Homo sapiens: one gene and its partners. The protein of the gene in region 3 interacts with the protein of the main gene of each other region in a pairwise test. Each region holds a gene or a part of one and is shown on either strand. Other genes may lie near its edges. The genes, in order: APIP, RASGEF1B and BAZ2B.

Evidence for each region.
Region 1: the proteins of BAZ2B (region 3) and APIP interact in binary tests that used the Homo sapiens proteins (3 or more experiments, as listed by UniProt).
Region 2: the proteins of BAZ2B (region 3) and RASGEF1B interact in binary tests that used the Homo sapiens proteins (3 or more experiments, as listed by UniProt).

Annotation. Positions count from the first base shown.
Region 1 is NC_000011.10:34,909,688-34,913,438, forward strand, and holds part of APIP (methylthioribulose-1-phosphate dehydratase), read right to left. Parts: intron 2,427-3,751; exon of another isoform or gene 2,286-2,426; intron 1-2,285. UniProt on the Homo sapiens protein: Catalyzes the dehydration of methylthioribulose-1-phosphate (MTRu-1-P) into 2,3-diketo-5-methylthiopentyl-1-phosphate (DK-MTP-1-P).
Region 2 is NC_000004.12:81,458,223-81,461,973, forward strand, and holds part of RASGEF1B (ras-GEF domain-containing family member 1B), read right to left. Parts: intron 1,293-3,751; 5' UTR 1,287-1,292; coding exon 1,110-1,286; intron 1-1,109. UniProt on the Homo sapiens protein: Guanine nucleotide exchange factor (GEF) with specificity for RAP2A, it doesn't seems to activate other Ras family proteins (in vitro).
Region 3 is NC_000002.12:159,614,625-159,618,375, forward strand, and holds the start of BAZ2B (bromodomain adjacent to zinc finger domain protein 2B), read right to left. Parts: upstream 1,925-3,751; 5' UTR 1,618-1,924; exon of another isoform or gene 670-1,617; intron 1-669. UniProt on the Homo sapiens protein: Regulatory subunit of the ATP-dependent BRF-1 and BRF-5 ISWI chromatin remodeling complexes, which form ordered nucleosome arrays on chromatin and facilitate access to DNA during DNA-templated processes such as DNA replication, transcription, and repair.

The DNA of each region.
Region 1 (3,751 bases), on a different chromosome or scaffold from region 3:
ATAAATTTGTAGGGGCAAGATGTGGAAGGGCTTGAAAGCTGATGACAACAGTCTTACCAGAAAGGAAATGATTCCTAATAGGAGACACGGGGAGAAGGAGAGAAATAATTATAGAAGGTGAGAGGGCTTGGAGATCCTGAGCTCTAGTGGAGGAACTGGGCTTCTTGCCTTTCATGAAATGAGAGAAGCTGGGTTCACATTCCAGCAGATTGGTAGGTTTTGTGGTAGGAAGGTGAGGAAGTTCATTACCTAATGACTTCTATTGTCTTCAGTATAAACAAAGTCATCAGCTGAGTATGGCAACAGGGTATGAGAGGCTTGACAAGAGAATAAAAGGTATAAAACAGTCATCTTTGGGAGTGGAACACCGAACTACTAGAGAAACAAAGATGGGCTGTTGGGCAGCAGTAAGTGACGATTTGAGGTTGAAATCATGAAGCAAGGCCAGACAACAAAGTTGTGCAATATTCTCCAGCAATGTTCAGCTGCTCAATGCCAGCCCAAAGAAATGGGTGGCAGGGTTCATCCTGGCTAAAGGTTTGGCTAGGCCAACTCCATATGTAAATTAGGTCAACCACGACCTTAAGTAACAACTGTTTCAATAGACTGGGTGTGGAAGCAAGATCGCAGTGAGCTTCACTCACTTTCATTTAGAAGTAAATGAAACTTGGAGGCATGGAGTTCTAATGACTCTTTCAATAGTGTTGCTATAAAGAAGGGCTAGACAGGGAAAAAGAAGGGAAAAACTGGTTAATTAAGACAGTTTTCTGTTACATGCTAACGGGTAACATGAGGAGACAGGGAAAGATTAAACATACAGGAAAGCAGAGGTCTAAGAGGTCAGCCTTTGTCGAGATAGAGAAGCTGGCATTAGAAAAACAGGAATGGGAGGAAAGGTAAAGATGCAGGTAAGTATGTAATAATATTAACAATGTAATATTAAATATGTAATAATACCACTGATAATAAGAATTGCTAACATTTCTTTATAGAGTGCTTATTTTGTGCCAGGCATTTTTCTAAAGCCTTTATATGGAATACTTTACTTTATCCTTATAACAACCCTATTGTACTAAGAGAGATTAAGTAACTTGTCCAAGGCCACCAAGATAGCAAGAGGCAGAGCCAGAATTTGAACCCAGGCAGTCTGATTCTAGATCCTGGTCCTTAACCTTTACATTATACTGCATGTGGAAAGAGGAAGACATTAAGAAGTTCACACCTAATAGCTTTCAGTTTCTTTGTGATTTTGGAGGCAAGGTCACCTTTGAAACAGGTGTGGGGTAAAGGATGAGGTGAAATGATGAGGTTCTGGAACAGCTACTTAGGGGAATGTAAAAGGAAACTCCCCAGAGGACTGTCACATGCTACTCAGAGGCCAGCTGCAGTAAGACACCAGAATACTTGTAGACACACTAATTCATATAGTTGAATATACCCAAAAAAGTGTATGGTAAAAGGGTAGGGGTTGGGCAGAGAAGGATATGACCATGGGAATGGGATGTTAGAGTGAGGGGGCGGTAAAGATGAACAGCAGTGATGAGGTCAAGGAAAAAAAAAGGGCAAGGTACTGGATGTACTTGTGCTGCAGAAATATCAAAGAAAAAATATTTGTTCAGTGTCAACATATATAGGACACTGTGATAGTTAAGGTAAAATTAAAAAAATAGAAGTAGTCCCTACCTGGTTTTTCTCTGCAACTAAGCAGAGAATGGGCTCTTGGTATAGCTATACCTACCACAGTGCTTTGCTCAATAAACGTTGGTTGCATTAACATCATATCTCTTACATTAAAAAAAGTCCTGTATCAGAGGTTATGGTATTTTGTGGACTGCTTCAGGCTCACAGGAAGTTGTTTATTTGGTCTACGCAATGCTTAGAAAGAGTCTGAGCCTAAATTTTAAAATCAAGAGATTTCATATAAAATCTGAGTTTCCAGTTTCCCTTAAAAAAGCAAAACTAAACAATGGGCCCATAATACTCCCACATAGCAAAAACGATCAGTGTTGTGTAGTGCTACCTCTTAAAACAGGGCATATGCTGGCCCTAGTATCTTCTTTTTGGTTTCCATCTGGCCAATCTAAAATGCCATATTCTCCATGAAGTCTTCCATGAGTCACTGTATGAAATGACCTTCCCCTCCCTCTATACTTGCAAAATACTTTGTCATCCCCTAATGGAACTTCATCCTTTCCCCCCATGCCCCACTGCCCATTACTGGTATATATTAATTATAAATATGCATTTGCAACTGCCCAAGTTTCTGAAAAATAGGAACAACTTACTCATGTTTGCATTTTTCAGCCTGGACTTCAATATACGGTTTCTGAGTAAATGCTTTCTTTTTTAGGGAAACACTCCTTGACTTTTGCTGATGTTAGAAAAAATCAGTTCAAGGGCCAGTCAGTAGGGATTTAATTTCAGAGCTGTAAAACCAGGTCAGAGATTATTGTCATAAGCTGAGTCTGACCCGAAAATAATACACTTGATGCCTGAAGAATCTTTAGAATACAAGAAGAAAGTACATGAAACATAAGTCACTTGGGGATGTTACTGCAAATGATAATAAAAATTATTGAATGGGCTACAGAGTGTTCAGAAAAGATATATAATATCTTTTATAATATGTGTTCAGAAAAGAGTGTCTATCAAAGACAGAATAATATAAATACACAGGTCTTGAGAGCGAAGGTTTTGGTGAGCAAGTCTTCCAAATCTTTATCTCCAATCCAGTTCTCTCTCCTAGCTTGAAAGCAATACCCAGTGTGATGGTTAATACTGAGTGTCAACTTGACTGGATTGAAGGATACAAAGTATTGATCCTAGGTGTGTCTGTGAGGGTGCTGCCAAAGGAGGATTAACATTTTGAGTCAGTGGGCTGGGAAAGGCAGGCCCACCCTTAATCTGGATGAGCACAATCTAATCAGCTGCCAGCATGGCTAGAATACAAGCAGGCAGAAAAATGTGAAAAGGGAGACTGGCCTAGCCTACATCTTTCTCCCGTGCTGGATGCTTCCCGACTTGAACACTGGACTCCAAGTTCTTCAGTTTTGGAACTCAGACTGGCTCTCCTCGCTCCTCAGCCTGCAAACGGCCTATTGCGGGATCTTGGGTTCACGTGAGTTAATGCTTAATAAACTTCCCTTTATATATATATTCCATTAGTTCTGTCCCTCTAGAGAACCCTGCTAAATACACTCAGTGTATAGTACCACATGCTGAGGCTGTACCTCAAACTCAACATGTCCACAACACACCCATCATAAACTGTTTCTTCCTCCTGTATTCTCTTTCTGGTGGACCACCAGGCCCCAATCACTAGATCAGAAGCCTAAAAGTCATTCTTGACTTCTTTTCTCACTACACACATCTAATCAATAACCAAGACCTCCTGATTTTACTCCCTCACTCAGACCTACAGCATCTCTTGCTTGGATGCCTGCCACGGCTTCCTAGTCTGTCTCCATGCCTCTGGTCTTTTTAACTCTAGCCAGCAATCCCCAGGCCTTCTTCAGTCATCCTGCTGATTATCTCATTGCCCTTAGTTTAAAAATCTAAGATTTGCTTAACAGGCCCTTTAGGTCTGGTCCTAGTTTGTCCAGAATTGGTTCCTTCCCGTGGGTTCTTGGTCTCACTGACTTCAAGAATGAAGCCGCGGACCCTTGCGGTGAGTGTTACAGTTCTTAAAGATGGTGTGTACGGAGTTTGTTCGTTCAGATGTTCAGAGTTTCTTCCTTCTGGTGGGTTCGTG
Region 2 (3,751 bases), on a different chromosome or scaffold from region 3:
TTTAACCACATTGTCTCCTAAGAAGCCAATAATGAAGTAGTGCTTATTTGTTATAATAATTTCAGACTCCCAATGAAAAGAGAAATTCCATGGGATTTTTCTTTTTTCCTTAGGCGCCTTTACTAGCTCATAAACACAGGGCTGAACAAGGGATTCCTTTTACTTTTGACTACAAGTTTTCCCTGTGTGGCAACATATCTGAAAATGCCATGTAACAATACACAGAGAGATAACTCAGTAAGAAACACTATGGTGAATTACTGCGGCAAGCACCAACTATCCTTTGCACACCAAGGTTATCATTAAATTTATAAAGACAAATGAATGTAGTCTCTAGATATTTTCATGAGATCTTTATCAATAACCAGCTGCTCGGCAAATCTCCTACTACTAAGCTCAATTCCATAGAGGTAGCTGCAGCACAGGGAAGGGGGAAAAAGTCACTTGTCCCAGAAAGAAAACCTGTGTTTGACTGCTGATGCTGGGAGTGGGACCATCAGCAAATACTCAACACTCTGAATCGTTTTCTCCTCTCTTCCCTCTTGGAATTACTGTAAAGACTGAGAAAATATACAACAAATTCCCTAGATTAGAAAGTGCTAGCTATATAAATGTAGGTTACCAAGGTAAAACAAAGCAACCATGTCATCTGATGTCAAATCTATAAAGAATTACATCTTGAGCATAAATCTTGTTTTCTCTTCCATATACTTTCCTTGGTTACATTCACTTTTCTTAGCATAGTGATGGTCTTGGAAACAAAAAAGGCATTACATATTCTGGGAGCATCCAATGTTCTCTGACATTTCTATTTAAGGACTAAGCTATATGCATGAATCAACTCTACAGATACTTCATTTAGATGGTATCAGACCATCTACAATGTTGTAACTAACCTGAAAAGAAATTGATACACATAGTATACCAAAATCTGATCCTTATCCAGGCTCGATTTGATTTCAATGCACTTGATAATCAATATGCAATTTCTTGTTAGAAAAATTCTTAGCAACCTAGATATAATTCTGTATTATCTATGGTCCCTGCCTACTGTACTGCAATTTCTACTCATTGCCAAGGATGTGTTTCAGAGAAACATGAATACCTACATCTGGATAGTAATCCACATTAGGTACTAAGTGCTGGATGAGTGCTTCCAGGGATCCAGAGAGGAGGTTGTTGTCATGGTAATACAACCCTCCACAGCTGTCCTCTGCAGACTGATAGAGGTTTCGATTGTAACCACTGCTGTCAAACATTGCTGAAAAGGGAGGAGTCTGAGGCATACTTTCCTAAAAGGAATAAAAAAGAAGAAAAAATAATGTCAGCAATATGCAGTATGAAAATAAAGGTAAGCTTTAATAGGCACTAAGATTTAATAGTAACGAGAGAATAGGCAATTAAAATAGTAGTTCAGGTTCTGACACAGAATCAGAGCCCATCAGGAACCAAATTGCTCTCTGAGTACGACACGTATGCATGCTTTTGAGTACCACTCTCATTCAATCAAATATCATACAATGCTTAGACTGAGGGGCCCAACCTGGACTTAAACTCAAGTCTCTGGCTGTCATATTTAGATGTCACTCCTTCACATCAGATTGTGAAAGGGGCAAGGGAACTGAACTTCTATTGCTTTATCGCATGGAGTCAACAATTTTCCTAAGGTGGAAATGTGTACACCTTAAAATTTGGTTGGGAAAAGTTACCTAACACTGAAGAGCTATCTGAAGTACTGGAAGACAACCAAAATTGAAGCTGAAAACACTAAATTGCAAAGTAGGCCTAGAGTTGAAGTATACTCTGTGCATGTTTATATATGTATATGTGTACACACAAGATTTCATGTAGACTCTTCAGTTTTCACTGAAAGATCAGATGCTGTTGATTTTCTCCCCTTTGTGTTAAATTCTCCTGGGGCTGTGGGGTGGTATCTGTAAAGCCTCAGTTCTCAATAAACATGCAGGCTGAGAAGACACCTGATTTGGGAGCAAGGAGCACTGTGACAGTCCTGAGATAAGTTGCTCCTCTCCATCTGTGTACTTTGCAGTTCACAAAGGCCTTGTCAGAGGGTGCTCTGCAGAGGCCAGAGGCTATTAAGTTATTACTTGAATTCCTAGGGACGGCACCCGGCCCTGAGAACAGACTCCCAGTCTCTGGCACCACGTCTGCACAATGGAGGCATTGAAGAGCTGCAGAGACTGGGGGCTTCAGAAGGCAAACAATGAAGGGGAGCCATACTCCAAGCTACGGACTGACAGGGACAGGGTGTGTGGAGGCAGCAGAAGGACATAACCTGGACTAATCTTTCTTTTTAAGATGCCAAAAGATATTTGCATCTCAATGTGGGAGGGGTGTGGAGCCCTGTCTAAGTCACATCCATCACTCCTTGAGCATCTGTTCCAGCTACAGCTGATGGGTACACAGAGCATCACATCCTGTGCATGTGCCTCAGCAGGGGGCGGCCAGGGGTGGGGCATTAAGAGAAAACATCCATCATAAAAGCCAACCTGGCAGGTGAAAACAGAATTAGATAAAAGAAGCATCAAGAAAAATAAATGGGAGATAAAAACCAACTTCATTTCTGAGTACTTTGTCCCCTCCACAAACCAGTGTTGAGGGACAATTTAACGGGATCCATGAAAAAGCCACAAATGGGAAGAAGGTGATGACTGAGAACCACTCTATTCACAGAGATTTGTCACTACTAGGGTCACTGGCCCCATGTCTCTCCTTTAGGTAGCACATAGTCATAGCAGCCAAAGGGTCAGGCACTATGGGATATAACATTAACACAGATGGTCTGCACACACCCTTAGTTGGCAAGACCTCACATGTAGGAACTGCAGTTAAATAAATAAATTATTCAATGTTAACATTTTATAAGGCAATAGACAAGGTATGTTTCTTTCCTCCTCAAATTGCCAGGTTTCTATGAGTACTACTCCTGTGCAATATAATCGTTGCAAACTGGCCATCCTTGGCGGCAAGAATAAGAGCCAGTCTGTCCTTGCCCTGAGAAACTCATAGTGCCCTCAAACGAGGAGGCAGGGACGTGAGATGAGAGGCACCTAAAAGTTCCTTCAGATAACTGAGAGAGAACCCTTTGTCTGGATTTGGTTGCCTCTGGCTTTAAAAAGTTTTAGATGTTTATAACCACAGTGTCCTTCACATGCAGCATGAGGAGTGTCATGCCCTTGGAATTGGGATTTTTTTCTTTCAGGAACCACACATTTTCCTTCATTGGAGCACTTACTCATTGCTAGCGCAACCATTCTAACAAAGTGCTTTTGGGAGATGGTTGGCCAGGATTTGGGAATTCCAAAAAATCAGAAAATGATAAATATTCAAAGGAACCACAGAAATCACCTGGCCCAGTATCTGGAAAACATTTCATTTCACTTTCCTTTCACTTTCCAACTGCAATCAATTAAAGTGGTGGTCTAAAGGCCTGAGGATGAGCAAGGAAAATATGGAAGCTGTAGCTCAGTGGGAGAATGTAGGTTGTAAGTGATTAGCAATGACTGTCAGACAGTCATGGAAGGAGCCACAGCCCATGTGCCATCACAATCTAGTCCAATCTCCTCTTCTGAGACCCAAGGGGGTAAGGTGACCAGGCTAAGATGACCCAGCAATGAGGCACATCGCTGCACTCTTGCTGGATGGAACTCCCCTGCACCAAGTACTCTCCGGCCAGAGGCTAATTAGCAGTAAGCACCAACCCACAAAACGGTCATGGGTCACTCAGATT
Region 3 (3,751 bases):
TAAAAAAAAAAGTACACAAAAACCAGATAAATAACAAATGACGCACAAGTTTTTTACCATTTTTTGCATATAATCTTCCACCTGTTACCAAAACATACAATACGCAGACTTCGTATACTGATTTTGAGAGCAAAACACAAAAATAAGCCACACAACTTATCAGTAACCTGTAAGTTACACAATCCTATAAAACAGGAGAAAAATTAAGCAAAAAATTTACTCTTGGGAAAATTTCTCCGTAAAGTTTACATGACGTCACTGGGCCCCCTGAACATTCCCTAAACTTTGAGACTTATCCAGACACACTTCCTAATACTTCTTTCCTTTCCTCAAAAATAAAAAAGAGAGAGACTTGGGAATAAAATTGCCCAAGATGGCGAAACGCTTGTTGTTTAGAGGGCAGGAAAAAAAATGGAGGATATTGTAATATACACAAAGGGATAAATTTCAACAACTCGGCCAAGGACTGCAGCTGCTTCCCTCTTTATAAGGAAGCAACAGACAAAAGATAAATACAGAGGGAGAAAGAAAAGAAGAGAAAATCTCCCAAACAACAGAGCCAGCTCTGACTCTTCAAACACTTCCTTCCCCTTCTCAAATCCCAATTCTGGGGTTCGTGAAACTACTTAAAGGGGAGGGAGCCGCGAAAGAGAACGGGGGCTGGGGGGAGGGGTAGCGACAAGAAGATTAAAAGAGGGAAGCAGAGGAGTTGGGAGCTGGCGGTCGTTCCCGGGGAAGAACTGCTAAAACATGAGACCAAGGCACAGACCTTACTGTATGAGAAGCAATGCTCCTCAAACCTTCTGCGTGCTGACATAGACCTTCCCAGGTATCCAGATCTTTTCCCAATCCCACCTGCCCCACCCCCACCCCCGCTCATCTTCAGTAAACTCAGAGCCTCCAGCTACACACGGGAGAGCTAGAGGCCCAAGCCGGGGAGTGGGGGTGGCAGACGCAGCTCGTCAGTCCGACAGGGAAGAGGGGGCGGAGGCAAAAAAGGGCAGCAGGAGGCGGACGGGGGTGGGGGGTGATCCAGAAACTACCCCGGCAGGGAGTGGGGGAGCAGCGGATATTCCGGGGTAGGAACGGCCATCGCAACGCTGACAGAGGTTGTTTTTTAAGAAGCAAAACTGTTGGCGGCGACCTGAGCGCTGGAAGCCGAAGGGGAAGAGGAAGGAGACGCGAAGCCAGGGCGGCCGGCACAAAGGCGGCGGACTCGCGGCGGCAGCGCCTGCCCGGCCGGGAGCACAACCCACGGCCCTACTCCAGCGAAGTCCCGCACCGGCTTCTAGGAATAAAGTTTACGTTCTCCTGAGGCCGCACCCCCCACCTCCCACCCAGGACGGCACATCTCCGTGTCCTCCTCCCCCAAACTCCACTCGGGACCCCGAGAACCACCCCAGCCTTCCGGCCACCACAACAAAGAGCCGCACCGACCGGCGAGGATAAACAGCGGCGGAGGGCGAGAGGGCGGCGGGGCGAGCGCCTCCACGCAGCAACTCCGGAGTCCCCCGCTTGCCCGAGCGCAGTTTCTCCGCTGCTGTTTCCACCGGCTTTGTAACACTGGGAATTTACATCCTCACCCGCACCCCTCACGCCCGAGGATTTTAAACTCACCTTTACTCTCGAACTGAGAGTTGCGGTAGATGGGATTTTTGCCTTTTCCCCAGATGGTTGAAGGTTAAGATTTTTGGAAACCCCACCACCTCCTTATTTCTATTATTATTTCTGCAAGAAAAGTATAAAGAGAGTTGTAGTGGAGGTGAGATTTGTGATCGGGAAAGCCTTCGACTCCCTCCTTCTCCGTCTTCCGCCTCTCTCTCTCTGATTAGTTCCTATCCAGCAGCAGATTGAAGCAGGAGATGATTCTTCTCAAGGTTTGTTCAGCAGCTTCACTTCTAGGCGAAGGCTTCATGAACCAAGTGACGTCAACCAACAAGGCTTCTCTCTCTCTCCTCTCTCTAACAATGAAAGTTGCTGTTAACAAGGGAAAAAAAGAGAGAGAATTGTTTATACCATTTCAGTTCCAATAATAAATGACCTATCAGCTCCTAAAGGAGCCAAGGGAGGGGGTTGCTTCTTCTTTCCAAGAATACTGTAGCTTTGAGTTTGCACCGTTCCTTGTCCCAGGAAAAAGTTAAGAAACTTAAAATGTTTTGTTTTGCTTTTAAAGAAGACAGGACAGAAAACGGGATTTAAAACTTAGTTTTTAAAAAAACAAAAGCTACAGAGTAGGGAGCATAGGTCAACCATCTCCACCTAAATTTTTTTTGTTCCTAAACTCAGAATTCTACAACCCAACTAAATTAATATGCCAAGATTTTGCGGATGTTAAAACTCAAAAAAAGCAGTATGCAAGACGGTCCCGGGGTAAAATTCTACTGCCTTTCCACGGACAAGTTAAACTGGCTGTAATGTTTATGCACTAAGTTAAAATAAAATTTAAATAAAAGACGTTAAAATAGTCGTTTTAAAGTTATATGCACACACTGTAAAAGGTAATCTCGATAGCTTTTTTTCAAGTTTCTGAGAGATTAGAAAAAAAGCATAGCAAATTGTAGGCACTGAACACTTTTTAAAAATCAAGTTATGAGTAAGACTGGTAGCCCTTTGCTCCTTTAAACTACAAATGCAGTCATATGCTATGGTCTACCCCCAGAATCTCTTCCAACTTTGTTTTTACCCTTCCACTCCCCCAACCCCAATTCCCAAATCCTGCAACCAATCAAGTTAAACTAAAGATACAATAGGCCCCATTCCCTCCCGCACCCCATCCTATAGATTCCTAAAAACAATTTTTTTAAAAGCCTTAATCTTGATAACACTTTATTAGCCAAGAAGATACGTATTTTTTTTTTTAGAAGTTCGTTGAGGTACCGTTTTTTCCCTCCAGAACACAAGAAAGTCTCAAAGTTCATATAATTAAAAATTGCATAATTTAATTTTCAGGATGAAGAGTAAGTAAAAATTAAGCTATCGGAGAATAATTTGATCATCTATGTATATTTTATACATATGTGGATAAATGTATCTTAAAAGATGCTATTGTTTTATGTTTCCTCTTCAGCCACTGGCTGTGATTTTAATTGTGCTGGAGGATCTTCATTAGTATTAACACATGGGGAGATTTCACAAAGCTGCTTCATTAGGAAAAAAAAAAAGCTTGGCAGACTCGGTCTTTTTGCATGCACTGAGAATGTCAGCCTTACCTCGGTCATTTGTAACATAATAAGTGCAAGTACAATGATTGCAATGCAGGAGCACTGGGGGAAGGGCAGAAATACTGCCTGTCTAATAGGGATATCTGAAAAGAAGGCTGCTCATTACAGAGTAAAATGTATGCTAAAAATTAGTGAAGATGATGTCTCAGGAGACTGATGCTAAATAAATTAATGTGCTGATATGTTTTTAATTATTATTTTTGTAGTAGTTTATTTCATTCTCAGGATTCACATTGAGCAGCAAAGCTGTGCTAGCACTTATTGATTTTTTTTCCCTGCCACATTCCCGGAATACAGATTTTAATCATTTCACTACACCACACTCAGTAATTTCATTAAAAACTGGAATCTTCCATCCCCAGAAAAGCATTTAATTTCAATGACATACAATTTCTCTTTTAGCAGCAAACTGTCTCTACAGTAAAAACTGGCCTAAGGTTCAAATGCATAATTTAATCCTGAGTTTTCCATGCTCTGCATTCCTTTCAAGCTATAATTTGAGTAACTACCTAATAACTGTAATAAGGACA